Regions from separate parts of the Homo sapiens genome. Here region 2 is linked to region 1. Evidence: fine-mapped expression QTL. A gene starts in region 1. The other region holds a variant in brackets. All regions are shown on one strand. Distances are between the middles of the regions.

Region 1 (8,344 bases):
TACCAGCTCAAGTTGCTTCTATTGTTTCTTCTGTTTAAATCCTTTGTGATTTCATTTTTTATAAATTCTGTGTTCCCAATGAAATGACAAACTTCCGTATATCAGTCTTTCTACAAATGCTTTGAGTACAAAAGGCATTCAATAGCATTTATTGATTTCGTTTGATGGACTGATTTAATGTGTATCATCACTCTGAAAACCATCACCCTGTTTAGAATTTGGTGTTGTACTCAATTCTGCATGAGTTTTGAATCACCTTATTCATCACGGAACTGTGTACTGTTTGAGTAGCAGAATTTTTAAAACCTTTGTATTGCTAAAGAGGTCCTTTAATTGTATTTAGGATGTCCCTCAAGGATCATCTCAGTGTCAGTCAGACCAAAAGCAGCTGTACATCTTATATGTCTTTTTCATGAGCATAATCCAATGTGTCCTTTTCATGATTTTTTCATGACTTTGAGGTATTTCTTGTCAATACTGATTTGTTATTGTTGTCTCTTGAATAACTTCCCTGTGAATTTTTAAGCTATAAAAACTTCCCAGCAGTCTGAGAAATGAAACAGAGGAGAAGGATGAATAAGGTCTAGTAGAAACTACAGAATAAGTACTAAATGTGGTTTTGATAGGCAGAATAATGACCCTCTCCAATGATATCTACACCCTGGGACCTATGAATATATTACCTTACATGGCAAAGGGACTTCACAGATGTGATTAAGAACATTGAAATGGGGAGATTACTCTGGGTTATCCAGGTGGACCCCATGTCATTACAGGGGTCCTTCCAGGAGGGATGCAGGAGGATCAGAGTTGGAGGAGATGAGGCAAGAGAAGTAGAGGTTAGAGTTCTCCAACCAAGGAATGCAGGCAGCCTCTAGAAGCCAGAAAAGACAAGGAGGGAACAGGTGATTCCCCTCAGTCTCCAGAAAGAGTGCACAGCCCCTGCGGGCCTTTGATTTCAACTCTAAAAGATCCATTTTCAGATGTCTGACTTCCAGAACTGTTAGCTAATAAATTTGTATTTTATTCAGTTGGTGATACTTTGTTGGCAGCAACAGGAAATGAATACAGTAAGATAGTACAAACAGACCTAGACAGAACTAGAGATAGGTCACAACCTAGTCCCTACCACACATATAATATATTAAATGTATAATCTCAGGAAAGTCACCCTATCTCAGTTTCCTTTCCTGTAGAGTGAAATTATATCTGCCTTACTGTGTTGTATAAAGACAAATAAAATTATTCACATGAACACTTTGCAAAGTGTTTCATCCTATACAAATGTTAGGCCTAAAACTTTGGCTTAGTTTGCTTAATGAGAGGGAGAACTGGAATAAAGACATCTGTGCTTAGCATATTTATGATATGAATACTATGATGACATAAATATTATGCCACAACCACTCCTGTCATAAAGATGTCCTTTTAGAAGCGGCCTAGTGTAGGGAAGATGACCCAGCTCCCTTCGTCTTCAACCAAAATGAACATGGCTAGCCGGAGAACCCAGACAGAGCCAGAGAATCCTTCTTAACCCACCTTCAGGAAGCAGCTATCAATTAACTACACCTGGCATAAAAGAAGAAACTTATTTAAAATCCCTGATCTAGGGGCTTAGAAAGTTTGATCTTTTTTTTTTTTTTTTAATACTTTAAGTTCTAGAGTACATGTGCACAACGTGCAGGTTTGTTACATATGTATACATGTGCCATGTTGGTGTGCTGCACTCATTAACTTCTCATTTACATTAGGTATATCTGCTAATACTATCTCTCCCCCCTCCCCCAACCCCACAACAGGCCCCGGTGTGTGATGTTCCCCTTCCTATGTCCATGTGTTCTCATTGTTCAATTCCCATCTATGAGTGAGAACATGCGGTGTTTGTTTTTTTGTTCTTGTGATAGTTTGCTAAGAATGATGGTTTCCAGCTTCATCCATGTCCCTACAAAGGACATGAACTCATCCTTTTTTGTGGCTGCATAGTATTCCATGGTATACATGTGCCACATTTTCCTAATCCAGTCTATCATTGACGGACATTTGGGTTGGTTGCAAGTCTTTGCTATTGTGAATAGTGCCGCAAAGTTTGATCTTTTGGCCAGTAGCATGGGCATTACCTGGGAGCTTGTTAGAAATGCCTATCCTGGGCCAGGCATGGCTCACGCCTGTAATTCCAGCACTTTGGGAGGCCGAGGCGGGCGGATCACCTGAGGTCAGGTGTTCCAGACCAGCCTGGCCAACGTGGAGAAACCCTGTCTCTACTAAAAATACAAAAATTAGCCGGGCGTGGTGGTGGGCGCCTGTAATCCCAGCTACTTGGGAGGCTGAGGCAGGAGAATCGCTTGACCCCGGGAAGCGGAGCTTGCAGTGAGCCGAGAGCGCGCCACTGCACTCCAGCCTAGGAGACGAAGCAAAAAACAAAAAACAACAACAACAAAAAACTAAAAAAGCGTTTCCTCAGTCCCTACCCCAGACCTATTGGATCACAATCAGCATTTTAACAAGACCCCCTAGGTGAGTCCTGTGTACTAGATGAGAGGATATATTTTGGATTGGTTTGAATCCCAGCTGAGCAGGTTACTACTGTGTGACCTCAAGCAAAGTGTTTAGATCATATAAGCCTGTTTCCTCGTCCACATGGTAAGGCACCTCAATGGGTTGTAGTAAGAATTAAAGAGGCTGAGGCTGTATGTAAGGCATTTTTCACAGAGCCTTCCAACAAATACCCAGTTAATAATGAAGCTCTTTTCATCGTATCATTTTGCACCATCTACAGCTGCTAACCATACTACACATCCATTCAGGATTCTGGAGCTGCTCAACAGGGAAGATTTCCAAAGCCCTCAAAGCCCTCCAAGCCCATGGGGTAGCGGGAAGGGGATGGGGACAGGAACACTGTCAGCAGTGCCTCTCCGAATACGCAGGATACTGTACATTTTGCAAAACATATTACTTATCGGATGATCTTGCTTTCAGATCTCCACTGCACGTGGCTTTATTGGAAACCTTCTGCTAGAGTCTAGACTCAGCCATGGAGTCTGGTGACCTGTGGGAGGGAGCAAGGGCCAGAATGCCTGCTAAATCGCTCTGGGTCCCCAGCCCTCTTCCTTAATCCCTTCTTAACTTTCCATCTGTCTCTGGTCTCCAGGGGTGCAGAACCACAACCCACCAGACCCCTCCTAGCTCCCGGCCCGGCGCTCAGCAGCCTGGGCTGCAACACTTTCCCCCAGGACCGGGAAGGCGGGGGAGGGGGTTTGGAGGGGGCGGAGCTCGGCCTCCTGCTGCCGCCGCTGCTGCTGCCGCCGCCGCCGCCTGCAAAGCTGTCGCCCCTCTCTCGGATGCTCAGGCTGGGCAGCGCTGGACAGATGGGTACACCCCGGGCCTGACGGATGAACAGTCGGGCAAGTGAACTCTCACCTCCAAACTGGCTCTGCGCCCGGCGGGGGCGGCGGCGGCGTCTGCAGCCCCGCGGTGGGGGCAGCCCCCTCGGTCTACGCCCGACTGCTGCGCGCCGCCTCTGCTCTTGGCATAGTAATTTCAGTTCCTGAACGCACGGAGCTCGCTCCGGGACCGGGCTGAGAAGGACCTCAGCTCGCGGGCCCGCCGGAGCCATCGGTGTGGCGCCGAGAGACGGTGCTTGGGATATGCGACGGGAAGCCCCCGCCACAGCGCAGGCAGTGGCCCCGCCGCGCCGCGGAGCCGGGCAGAGCAGGTAGGAGACGCCCCCTGCGCACCTCCGCCTGGCGGCCAGCGCGGGGGACCGGAGCCTGGTGGTGTGCTCTGTAGGGATGCGGAAGGGATTCGGTCCCACATTTTGCACAGGGATCCTTTGCCTGTTGCTCTTGTCTCTGTCCCATCCTGCGCTCTAGGAGGGGCAGTCTTTCTCGCAGGTGATGAATTTCTCTGCAAGGTCATTGCTCTCTTTGGCTCTGGCTTTGAAGGTAAATGGGAGAAGACGCCTGCTGATCGTGGGCAGGGAAATTTATAATCAATCGGGTCTGCACACTGCGAATATCCGAATATGAGGGGTGTGTGTGTGTGTGTGTGTGTGTGTGTGACATTTGTCTCATTTTCCTATGCTTATCCCCTTTAAGGTCAAAACATAGAAATATATATTACATATGGATGTATGTATGTGTGTGTATATACACACACATACATAAATGCATATGTAAATAGGTTTTCTTGAGGTAGGCAGAAAGAAGAGGAAGGGCGGGCAGGGGTTGATAAAGGGAAATCGTTGTAGAGACATGTTCACTAATAGAGGCGAACTTTGGAACCACATTAAATCAGGGTAGAGACTAGAGGTGATAAACGGTTCTTTCAAGATGGGCTTTAGAAGAGGTCTGAAGGAGCCTGTCAGCCAACACACACAGAAGATCTTCATGCTCTCCAGGCAGATGGAAACGATGTAGGCATCATTTCAGACGCAATAATGGACAGTGAAAGAGGGAAAAAAGGAGAGGTACTTAATATGCCACTGGGAAGTGAATTTTGGGTGATGGGAAGGCATCGAATCCAGACCAGGTTTCAAGGGCTTTCTGGAGGGCCATTGGGAGAAATCACCGCTTGGGGTGTAGGCAGTTCAAGGTTAAGACGATGTGAATGTCCACAAAGCAGCCGAGGAGGTGGGCAAAAGGCAAGGGCTTGGAGGGGGAGGGGAGAAACAGAGCTCTGAGCAGTCACTCAAGAAGCACCCACCTTTGAGTAAGGTGTCTTCTTCCTCTTGGTTAAAGCGGTACTTGGGTATGCTCCATCTAAATATTTTCACAACACATTTGTTTAAAGATCCATTGGACTATGTTTTTATTTTGTTTTTGCAAGGTATCTGGGTCATGGTGGGACTAGAAGAAACTGAAGTGTTTACAACACCAGCAAGATTTGGGAGAGAGGGTTGATTAAGGCTTTGCTTCATGAAATATTTACACATCTCCTGCGTGGGCTTTTGTTTGCTCTTGTTGGTGCTGCTGCATATTTTACTTTGATAATGCTTTGAGTGTACTTCGCCCGAATGTGCTTATTTTCCAGTTATAACCTATTCTTTCTTTTCCCATTGTGCTCACCATTGGCCTGCCCTGAGTAACAATTGTGGGAATAAAGGTACATGAGTCACAGCCCAAAGCAGAAAATCTCTGCTGCTATCTGCAAAAGACAGGAGTTTGCGTTAGAGAATGTTCTTTTTCGAGTTTTTGTGTGTGTTTAGTTTTTCAAGTTTTGTGTGTCTTTAATCGAGGGAATAGGTTATTGATTCAAAAGAGAAAAAAAAAACAGCAATTGCAATTGCAGGCCTAGATGTTATATGATTGAAATTTATTTTGGAAACAGCAGAGGAACTCATGGAGAGCCATGTACAGTGTGTTGTGGTGTGGTGAGCCTTCACCTAATCACTAACTAGACTTCTACGAAAATGATTAGGACAAAATCACAAGTGCATCAGCTTCACATGGGAAGTAGAGGACTGAGGCGTTGTATGAGTCAGATCAGTGTCAATTGGAGGGCAGGCTGGATTCCAGCAAGCTGTTTTGAAATTTGAGTGTTTTAATTGCCTCAAAAAAATTGCCCAATATGCTTAATTATTTGTTCCTGCAACATTTTCTTAATTATGCCTCAACATACTTAAAAGACTATATTTAGATCCAGCTATCCTTCACTGTTTGAATTTCCAGTTGCAAAATCTGCAGCTTGCAGGAAACACGGAAATATTGGTCTTGGAATCACAAAATTATAAAATGTTGGGCTCAGAGAAGGAGGACACATGATTCTAGCCACAGCTCTTATTTGAGCTCTTTCATTGGCAGCTGCTCCTGCCCTTTATGCACTCATTCATTCACTTTTTCATGAATATATGTTGATATATTCAACATATATTTAATCCTGGACTGGACATGGTCCTAGATTGTGGAATAGAAGAATAAACAAGACATAGTCTCAGCCTGCAAAACTTGGGAGGGACACTGCCAGCAACCGCTGGTGGAGTGCCCTGACAGGGTGCTGTGGAGGCCAGGGTAGAGGTGGAGAGAATAAGGAGAGTTTCCCATGGACCTGAAAGATGAGAGGACCTAGCCCAGTGAAGAAGAGAGGGAAGGACATTCCTGGCACGGGGACCAAAATAAGCAGAGACCAAGGAAAATACATAGCTCCAGGTGGTTGAAAAACAGTGTGAGTACATAAAGATGGTAAGACGAGAATGGAGAGGGCAGCAGGATCCACCTACAAACTGAAGTCCAAAAGGCCTGCCAACTCATCTGGTCAGTAAACCATTTTATCTGGGTGATTTAGGTGAATGCATTCATTTTGAGGATCTATGGTATTCAGATTACCCAAATTTATATTCTTCAAATATCTAGAAATTATATTTACCTTAATTTACAATAGGCTGCTTAAAGGGGGAAAAGTCTTAATTATTTTTGGCTCAAATATTTCATCTACAAATGTCTACCACCTACTTTGCATATTAGAAAAATAAGAGAGAGAATGAGGGAATAGAGGTTTGAATTATGTAGAAATGAGTTATAAAAATTCAAGGATTCTTATTTTTATGAGAATAGGGCTCAGGGGAAAAGAATGACAAAGAGTGTATATTCTAAGTATTTATTTGTCCTAGATGACTCCAAAAGGCAAACATATGATAGTGTAAAAAACAGACTGAACAAACAAGTAACTCAGGAACACAGGCTAAACAGACCCCAAAGGCCACATACATTTTTAAAAATTATTTTTTAAATGAGAGAAATAGTTACAGTAATCCCATAGTAATCATTAAGTGCCCTTCAAGAATGGTGCTTTTCAAACTAGCACACTGTGAAGTCAGTTTAGTGAGTCTGATCAGCATTTTTATTTTTGAAAAATAAAATACTAAAACAGAAGAGTAAGTATTGTTCATGAAATTCCTTAAATATATATATACGTATGTGTGTGTGTGTGCAAGCCTGCATAATGGACTGTGATATAAAATGTATACCTCATTATACATCATTTTCCAAAAAGTCTGAAAGCTACTGCTTTAAGTGATACAAAGAAGAGATGTTCCCAGTTTGCAAGATGCCAAGAGCCGACCAAGAGATCTGACAGATCTGATAGACAAGCATTTTCCGCAATATTCTGAATAGCATAATTGCCTGATTGAGGAAGGCAAGACTTACAATTTAGTGAGTACATGGCAGTAAAGTCAGAGAGCAAGATCCTTGGGGACTGAATTAATCTGGAAAGGCTTCAAGGAGGAGGGGGATCTTGAGTTAGTTTATAAAAGATGGATGGACCTGGATGTGCAGTGAGGAAGGGGTGCTGATTTCATGTCTATAGAAGGAGGAAGCAAAGAATGAGGAAGTAATGGCAGTTATATTTAAGAATCATTTAGAAAAGAAGAAATAAATATCAAGTTGGAAGAGAACTGCAGTAGAATTTCTGCTTGGACTGAAATATTACATGAGTTACTTTTTAAAAAAATAAATTTCATTGTGTATATTTAAAGTATACAACGTGATGTTATAAGATACATACATACATATTTTATATATTTTTTATATATACACATATATACATATTTTATATTTTTTATATATAAATATATATAATGGTATACATGTATATACATAAAATGTAAAATGGTGACGGTGTCTGTAGTGGAACCAAATAACGTATACATCTTTTATATCTACTACTTTGTATCCTTTGACCTGGATGCCCCCTTTTCCTCCCCTGATCATCTTCACCCTGGTAATCACTGTTTTATTCTCTAGCTCTGTATATTTGACCTTTTTTGAGTTGTTAATTATTTTATGACTAAGATCTATTTTCCTAATACTGCTACTTTAAGAAAATCTAGCCAGAGTGGCCATAACATCATAAATCTGCCATTTCCTGCCATCTTTTTATTTATTTTGCAGTAATTTACTGGTTAGGCCTTGTTCAGTTGAATGTTACTGTTGAACTATTGACATTACGAGATACACCACATTGTGGCGTGATTATTTCATTTCTCAGAATGCAACTACAGTCGTTGGCACAGAAGGCCGAGGTGGTCATGTGAGGAACTGACAGGCTGTGAAGATGAACCAGATCGCTTGGTAGCCATGAACTCCTAAAGGAACGGCAGCATCTGCCATATTTTCTTTTCGTCAGTTGCTCTATGACTTGTCCATCTTCTTAGTTAGATATTTAAATATGTTTGTATGCATTTCTAGAAAATTTATTCTTGTGTTTTGCTGTACCCTAACAGTTATTCTGAAGAGACAAAGTTAGAGAAGAAAACCTTTACTTGTGTTCCTGAACATTTTCTTGGTGGGCTTCATTCAGCTCTTGGTGTCTTTTCTCTGGAATAGAACAATTTTGTGATATTTTCACC
Region 2 (8,344 bases), 23 kb after region 1:
TAATAATATCTCCTGACCTTTAAAGGGTAAAATGTAGTTCAGCCCCAGTTTTAGAAGAACTGCATACTGTTCTGACAAGAGCATATTGTTTTTCTGAAACTCTCATGAGAGTGCCCTGCATGGAAAAACAAATTCCCCTCATCTGGGCCAAAGTTGAATCCTATCAAGGTACACAGAATAAGAACAACTTGCTCATCAGCTGCCTGCTGCCCTCATGTAGAATATATTAAACCTGAATTTCACTCCAGAAGTTTGCATTTATGCAAACTTAGTTGACCCAGAAAATCATTTGTGAAAAGGAAAAAGTTGAAGAGAATATTGGTTTAATATATACCCTTTCAACAATTTCTTATAAATGAGTGACCAAGACAGCATAGAACAACCATCAAATCTATTTGTGTCATACTGATTATATTTTATTCTTGATCTAGAAAGCCAAGCAAGAGCTAGTTGGCTCTGCAAAGAAAAAAACAAAAAACCTTTCTTTGGGATCACATGTCTTTTCTCAAATCGGCCACCTTAAAAATGCATGCAGTTAAGAAGTCACAGAGAGAAAACAGACACGGCTCAGGGACATCTGCCACTGCTCTGGGAAAAACTATCCAATGCCAGGAGCAAGATTCTGTGATCTGCACGGGCCCTCGAGGCACCGAAATTAGACAGTACATTATTCCATGTGTTCAAATGATCAGTCAAAAATCATGAGCGCTCCCAAGAAAATTGATGAAAAGAATTTTTTTGGTCATTATGTGATACAAGTTTGCTGGCCTGACACTGAAACTAGTGCAAATTTTCTTCCATATTTGCAGGGGTCAGTAAAAATCAAGATTATCATGGCATCAGCCTATCAGTCTTTCTTAACTTTAGGATTTATTATGATTTTCCTAATATTCAATAACACTTCTAAACACTCCCAACATTTCTCTCTTCTCTTTCATTCCACATTTTATTTAGTGGAGTCATTCATGTTTTACTCATTTCAGGGTTAGAACTTTGAAATAGTTTCTGGAATTAAATCCATTTTCTTAACCTGGCATTGAAGTCTATTCATAATAGGCTTGTGTCTAGAACTGAATTTCCCAATGAGTATCCCAAGCCCCAGCCCATTATCTCCCCATCCCAGCTCTTCCTGCATATACTTTCAAGTTCCAGGTAACAGTGTACCACAGGGACCACAGTAAGTCTGTACCTCCCTGCCTTTAAATCTTTCCTTAGCCTCTTCCCTCTGCCCAAAGGCTCAGCTTTTAAAACCCAACTCGAATATTTATCCTGTGCTAGGAAATAGGACACAGTTCAATTTGGTCAGTTTCATTGTATTAACCACAGGTTGTAACATATACAACCCCAAAATTTCAGTAGCTTAAGGAAATAAAATTATATGCATTTTTTAAAATCTCTGCCAAATACCTCCAAAACACCTTTTAAATTTATCCTAATGTTAATTAATCATTTGCTTTCTTGCTCTCTCATGGCATTTTTCTCTACATGTCTAGTACAAGAGTTATTTTTCATGGTGTATCTTCCCTGAAATATTTAGTTTTGGAGGCCAGTTTTGTATGTCTTGTATATATGTTTGTATAGCCCCCACAGAATTTAGCACAATGCCTTATACATAAGAAGCCTCAATAAATAGTTCTTGAATTCATTTGTTTTCCATTGAGTTCACTACTGAATTCCTCAAGATTCTGAGGCCAGAGTAGTTGTTTTGTTTTTAGAGACAGGGTCTTCTTATGTTACCCAGAGTGAAGTGCAGTGGCTATTCACAGGCATGATCATAGCTCACTATAGCCTCAAACTCCTGGGCTCAAGTGATCCTCCTGCCACATCCTCCCAAGTACCTGGGAATACAGGCACATACCACTGGGTCCAGCTGGAGTAGTAGAATTCAAAAATAATTTGCTTTCTAAGTACTTTGGGAGTACTACCTTCTAAATCCTTGTAAGATTAATAGTTATTTCTTTTTGTGTGTTGTTTTAAGTGTCTTGGTGTCTTCAATGTAATGGGAGAAAGAAAATATCTTCCCTATCAGTAATTGGTGACTTTTCTTTTTTGAGAGTCTTGTTTTCTCAAAGGAAAAAGACAAAATTAATGTATAAAAGGATATGTACGTAAGAAACAAAAAAAATTGAATTGGGAGTCACATTCTAAAAAACACAAAGAAAAAAGGCAAGAGAACTATAAAACTTTTAAAAGTAAGCTTTCTGAATATGATGAGGTAGATTCTCTGACAAAAAGAAATACCAGCTGTGATAAAGACACAGTGTAGGAAAGCACCAGCGAAAGACAAACTTGGCTGAAAGGGAAATACCAAAGCTTTTCCCAAGCAGGTCCCAGACAAAGAACAAGCAAAAGATTTTGCAGACCATCATTATACCATAGTTGTAATGAACACCATCCACCTGATACCATCTGTACAACTTTAATAAGACCATCAGCAAAAACCAGAGTTTAGTTGAAACTTTCTCATGTTTTGCAAGTTGGTGCTCCTCCTAACTTTTGCCTCCTTTCACTACCATTGTTAAAACAGTCAGAGAATATCACAACTCCTCAAGCATTATTTTTCTTAATTTTTATTAACAAATTAATGTCATCTTAGTTTACATATATATATATATATATATATACACACACACATACACGTACACATGTAATTGAGCAACCTCTGCAAGAAGGAAAATGTCTAAAAGTTAAAGAAAAGGATATGTTCTGCAAAAGAAAAAGTGAGAGAGCTGACAGTCTTTGCAACTGAGGAAGTCAAGCTAGAAAATGATTAATCCAAATGAAGAACTAGTATACGGCTTCTCTTTCCCCTGAGGATAAATTAAGCAGTTGGAGTAGCAGAGTTAGAGATTTAGGCAAAAGAATGAGCATTCTAACAAGCTACTTATCCATAGTAATTCCCTCCCAAACACCAGTTCATAAGCCAGTTCTTCTTGGATACACTGATTTACTTTGCATGCCTTTTCCCCATCTCTGTCAGTTTCAGTTTGTTTACAGAAGAATATTTGAGGAGTAATTATGGAGAAAGGAGATAGTAAAATTTGGGAAAAGTAAAAAGAAGTGAATTGGGTGACAGAACAGGAAGTTGAGATATTTGTGATGCAGCCTGAGGTGTCCAACACATTTTCAGAATTAAAATGTCATGTTATAAAGCATGATCTTTTGGTTATTCTATGATTGTGGAGTAGATGGGGTTGTAACCACCTGGGGGTTCTTCCTGCCCACTGCACAAATAAAGACCATGGCATTGCAGTAAAGAAAAAGTTTAATTGATGCGAGGCTGGCCATGCCACATGGTAGACAAAGTTATTACTCAAATCAATCTCATAAAGGCTCATATGTTTAGGGATTTTTCTTTTTTTTTAATTATTATACTTTAAGTTCTAGGGTACATGTGCACAACATGCAGGTTTGTTACCTAGGTATACATGTGCCATGTTGGTTTGCTGCACCCATCATTTACATTAGGTATTTCTCCTAATGTTGTCCCTCCCCCGCCCCCTGACCCCCCAACCGACCCCGCCCTGTGTAGGGTAGGGATTTTTCAAAGGCAGTTTGGGGGAAGGGGTGAGAGTGGCTAGGTGCTTGCTGCTGATTGGTTGGGGTGGAGATGAAATCATAGGGAGTCAAAGCTGTCTGTCCCCTTGAGCTGAGTCACTCCTCTGTGGGGCCACAGGAGCAGTTTGGCAGGACCAAGTGGAGCCAGCAGTGTCAGACATGCAAAAGGCCTGAAAAGATATCTCAAAAGGCCAGTCTACATTGGTGATGTTATTGCAGTAGTAATTGGGGAAGTTGCATATCTTGTGACCAGCCTATTAGCAGAATTCAGGCTCCTCTCCTTCCCCTAGCCTGATGGTCTCATTCTCATTTAAACTATAATCTAAATGTCTTCCAAAGTTAGCTAGGCCTAGGCCTAAGTCCAAGAATAATTAAGGCAGCTTGAAAGCTAAAGGCAAGGAATGGGGAGTTGGGTTGGCTAGATCAGATCTCCCCCACTGCCATAATATTCTCACTGATATAATTTTTGCAAAGGCGATTTCAGGGTGAGAAAAGGGAGCTAGGGAAGGAGCAGTGGACTTGGAAGGTAGACCTGGTGGTGAGTTCCTGTTAGTAAGAAAGCCCAAGTAATTCTACTACCATAATCACTAATATTATTGCTGTTACTACTAGCTAACCTGTGTGCAAAACTCTCTTCTAAGAATGCACAACAATCCTAGAGGAAGGTGTTATTTTCATTCCTGGGTGGCAAGTGTTACAAACCTTAGGCACTGGGGAGTCAACTAATTTGCCTGAGGCCACACAGCTTGTAAGTGGCCAACCAGATGTGAACCTGAATAATCTGATCCTAGAGGCATTGTTAACCACTGTGCCTCTCACACAGTGAAATGTTTCCAGAAGGTAAGGGACAGTAATTCTGAATGGCTGGCAGTCCTCCAGCATGTGGTCTTCAGCCTCCTGTCTCTGTTCATGCCGTTCATTTGCTTTAGTGGCCTCTTCCACCCACCCATTCCTTCACCTGGCTGACTCCCCATCCTTCAGGGCATTCTGCCCAGCACACCTTTCCAGAATCCTGCTGAGGCCCTTACCTCACCAGCTTGTGGTGGGTACCCTGT[G/T]ATACCATCTGTCATAGCGTTTACCTCAACACAGTTGCTTTTCTGCCTTGTCTTAAAACCTTGGATCCTTCCATTCTTTCATCCTTCGCATTCAATCAGAGGGCACAGCTGATTTGACCTCTTCAGTATTTCTAGGTCCATCCTTCCCTCAGTTCCTGCTGCCAGTGCCCTACTTCTCACAGTTTCACTTACAAAGCCCCCCGCAGTTTTACTTTGTCACACCCTTTAGCCCTATATCTTGCATCCGGAGCTGCAGCCATGCCAACTAAATATTGTTCCAGCCCCACCCCACCCTCAACCACTTCCCCAGTAGGCTGCCTGTATATCTATTCATGCTTGTCCATATGCACCTGAAATGCCCTTTCCTCCCCACTGGTGAAGTCCTGCTTAGTTTTCAAGGCAGCATTGCTGTTGCTTACACTCAGAGGCCTTGGGTGGGCCTTCTCTTAGATATGCCAGCATTGTGCACTCATAACACCCTATGCCGAGCTCTACCAAAGGGCTCACCATTATACCGTAGTCCAGTCTCCCTTTATGTTTCTGCCTCCCCCACTAGATATGAACTTCCTGAAGGTGAGGACTGGCAGATTCCACCCACCTTGTGTGTACCATGATCTGTGTGATTACTTACTATGTTCCTGGTATTTTTTTCCTTCCCTGTTTTGCAGCAGATCTCCACTGGTTCCCCGGAAGCTTTCCCTGATTGCAAAAGTTGGAATGAGTCATTCTTTTCTTGTGTTACCATTGAAATCTGTAGCAATGAAATCACCTTTCTGCCCAGTGGATGTGAGCTTCTGAAGGCAGGAATTGAGCCTTTGTGGCTCTCTAGAACCCACCACAGGCCTGGCACATTGTGTATGTTAAACAATTTGGGATAGCCTAAAAAGTAATGTTTAATGTTTGTGCTACATAGGCCTATTGTTCAGCTGCATGAATTGAGTGAATAAGAAAAATAATTACTCTGAAGGCCTGTCTTTACTTCCTCTCATAGCCCTCAATGAAGCAAGGGATTTTACAAACAAAACACTAAAGGCCTTGGCTATCTTTGTTAATATTAATAACAATCGGTCTTTTTAGGCCTGAACGTATGTGCATAGTGTTCTTATCACTTTCAGAAAAACATTCCTCCATTACCATCTGAGGGTAACATAATCGCATGTGTGGCAAGTCATCAAATTAGTGAATTCTTAAAAGTCCAAGTTATTATATCTTTATTAGGCAGATTTCCACAGATTTGTGAGGTCTTCGATGTAGACTCTGAGACTGTGATTCATAGTTCCCATGACAGCAAAGTGGGGATAGCTCTCTGAGCCACCTCGGGCCACGAAGAGGTAGTTTTTAGTGGGTAAAAATCCCATACTTCTGACAAGTGATTTGTCAGATTAATATTCTACACCAGGGTTGTCCAGTCTTTTGGCTTCCCTGGGTCACGCTGGAATAATTGTCTTGGGCAACACATAAAACACACTAACAATAGCTGATCAGCTAAAAAAAAAAAAAAAAAAAAATTGCAAAAAAATCACATATGTTTTAAGAAAGTTTACAGATTTGTGTTGGGCTATGTTCAAAGCTGTCCTGGACTGCATAAGGACAAGCTTGTTCTACACACTTTGGATCCTTCCTTTCCTAATGAGGCTTATAAATCTGTGAGTTTATCCCAATAATAGATGCACACCACTGAAGCAGGTGAGAGATTACAACCCCTTGAGGGTCAAGGTAACAAGGCATGTTGGAAACATTCCTGACTCCCAGTATCTTATTGTTTACAAAGGATATTTCTATTATTTAGATACTCATATGACATTGATTTTTGTTATAAACTACTATTCAAAACAGTAAAATAAATTCAAAGCAAATAATTCATGATTTGAGATAGGATGGACATAATTCTCATCATTGCTAGTGAATATAGTTAACTTCAGTAATAGAAATGGCTATTCTTTTATGTTACAGTAATTTTGTTGGCAATGCATTATACACGAAATAAAAATCACATTTCTTTAGAGGCATGTTAGCATTCACCAAACAATAACTGTACTTCTTTTTCTTCTTGCCAGCACCATGCAGGATACTGAGACTACCAGGCACCCACTCACTCTCTACAGTACTCTTACTAAAGAGACCAAAAAAAAAAAAAAAAGATGACTGCATAGCAATGCATTATAATAAAGACTTTAGAATGCAATGAGACAACAGAGGAAAGACTTGTAATTAAGGGGGAATGGTTTAGGGATGGGAAAGTGCAAGGAAGGCTTCCCATAGAAGAAAATGCTGAGTTGTGTTGAGATTATTAGCAATGCAAGAAAGAGTAGAGAGGGTATTTTAGTTTCCTAGAGTGGCCATAACAAAATACCACAAACTGGGTGGCTTAAAACAACAGAAATGTGTTCTGTCCTTGTTCTGTGGGCTAATCATCTGAGAACAAGGTGTCAGCAGGGTTAGTTCCTTCCAGTGGCTCTAAGGGATAAGTTGTTCCATGTCTGATATAGATTGGATCTGTGTCCCCGCCTAAATCTCATGTTGAAATGTAATCCCCAGTGTTGGAGGTGGGGTCTGGTGGGAGGTGATTGGATCATGGGGCAGATTTCTCATGCATGGTTTAGTACCATCCTCTTAGTGCTGTCTTCACGACAGTGAGTGACTTCTCTGTGAGAAGTGAGATCTGTTTAAAACTATGTGGCAGCTGGGTGCGGTGGCTCACACCTGTAATCCCAGCACTTTGGGGAGCCGAGGTGGGCAGATCACGAGGTCACGAGTTCGAGACCAGCCTGGCCAACATGGCGAAACCCCGTCTCTACTAAAAATACAAAAATTAGCCAGGTGTGGTGGCGGGTGCCTGTAATCCCAGCTACTTGGAAGGCTGAGGCAGGGGAATTGCTTAAACCCAGGAAGTGGAGGTTGCAGTGAGCTGAGTTCACGCTATTGCACTCCAGCCTGGGTGACAAGAGCGAGACTCTATCTAAAAAAAAAAAAACATGAAACTATGTGGGACCTTGCTCTCTGTCTTGCTCCTACTCTGGCTATGTGATGTGCTTATCCCCCCCCTTCACCTTCCAACATGACTGTAAGTTTCCTGAGGCCTCTCCAGAAACATAGCGGATGCCAGCACCACGCTTCCCATAAAGCCTGAAGAACTGTGAGCCAACTCAACCTCTTTTCTTTATAAATTACCCAGTCTCAGCTATTCCTTTATAGCAATGCAGGAATAGCCTAATACAATGCCCCTTTTCTAACTTCTGGTGGTTGCCAGCAATCCTTGGCATTTTTTGGTTAATAGATGCATCACTCCTATCTCTGTTTCAGTTTCCACAGGACTTTCTTCCCTTCTTGCTTGTGTGTCTGTGTCTATGTCCTAATTTCTTTCTTATAAGGACACCCATCATATTGGATTTAGGGCCCACCCTAACCCTGTATGACTTTGTCCTAACTTGATTATATCTGCAAAAACCTATTTTCAAATAAAATTACATTCACCGGTTCTAGGTGGACCTGAATTTTAGGGGACAGTGTCCAACACAGTAGAGAGCATTCAGGAAACAGGAAGCAGCTTGGAAGAAGGCAGAGAGGCCATGACATATTTGAGCAACCATTGATCCTTCCTTATGGTTGTATTGAAAGGCTCTGGAGGACCTAACAAGAGACATGAAGCTTAAGAGGCAACAGAAGCCTCATCTTACTTGTATGCCAAACTCAAGAATTTGAACTTCATCTTGAAATATGTGGGTACCATA

Direction of the effects. Positions count from the first base shown, and alleles are read on the strand shown. Sizes are in standard deviations (SD) of each study's normalised expression.
With allele T in place of G in region 2, the expression in cerebellar hemisphere of the gene that starts at base 3,527 in region 1 is lower (moderate effect, 0.44 SD a copy in GTEx).

The links. PIP is the estimated chance that this variant, and not a neighbour inherited with it, causes the effect. A credible set is the group of variants that fine-mapping cannot tell apart.
Region 2: its variant is the best candidate, but not a certain one, in a credible set for the expression of GPRIN3 in cerebellar hemisphere (GTEx, PIP 0.80).

What each region holds. Positions count from the first base shown.
Region 1 is chr4:89,302,983-89,311,326 of GRCh38, reverse strand. It overlaps GPRIN3 (GPRIN family member 3), which reads left to right and starts at 3,527. Exons shown (of 2, transcript NM_198281.3): 1 at 3,527-3,712. RefSeq lists silencers at 3,448-3,517, 3,528-3,577.
Region 2 is chr4:89,280,372-89,288,715 of GRCh38, reverse strand. All of the region lies in intron 1 of GPRIN3 (GPRIN family member 3), which reads left to right. Among named protein-coding and RNA genes, the nearest start is that of GPRIN3, 23 kb to the left of the region's middle. The variant G/T (reference allele first, on the strand shown) is at 4,614.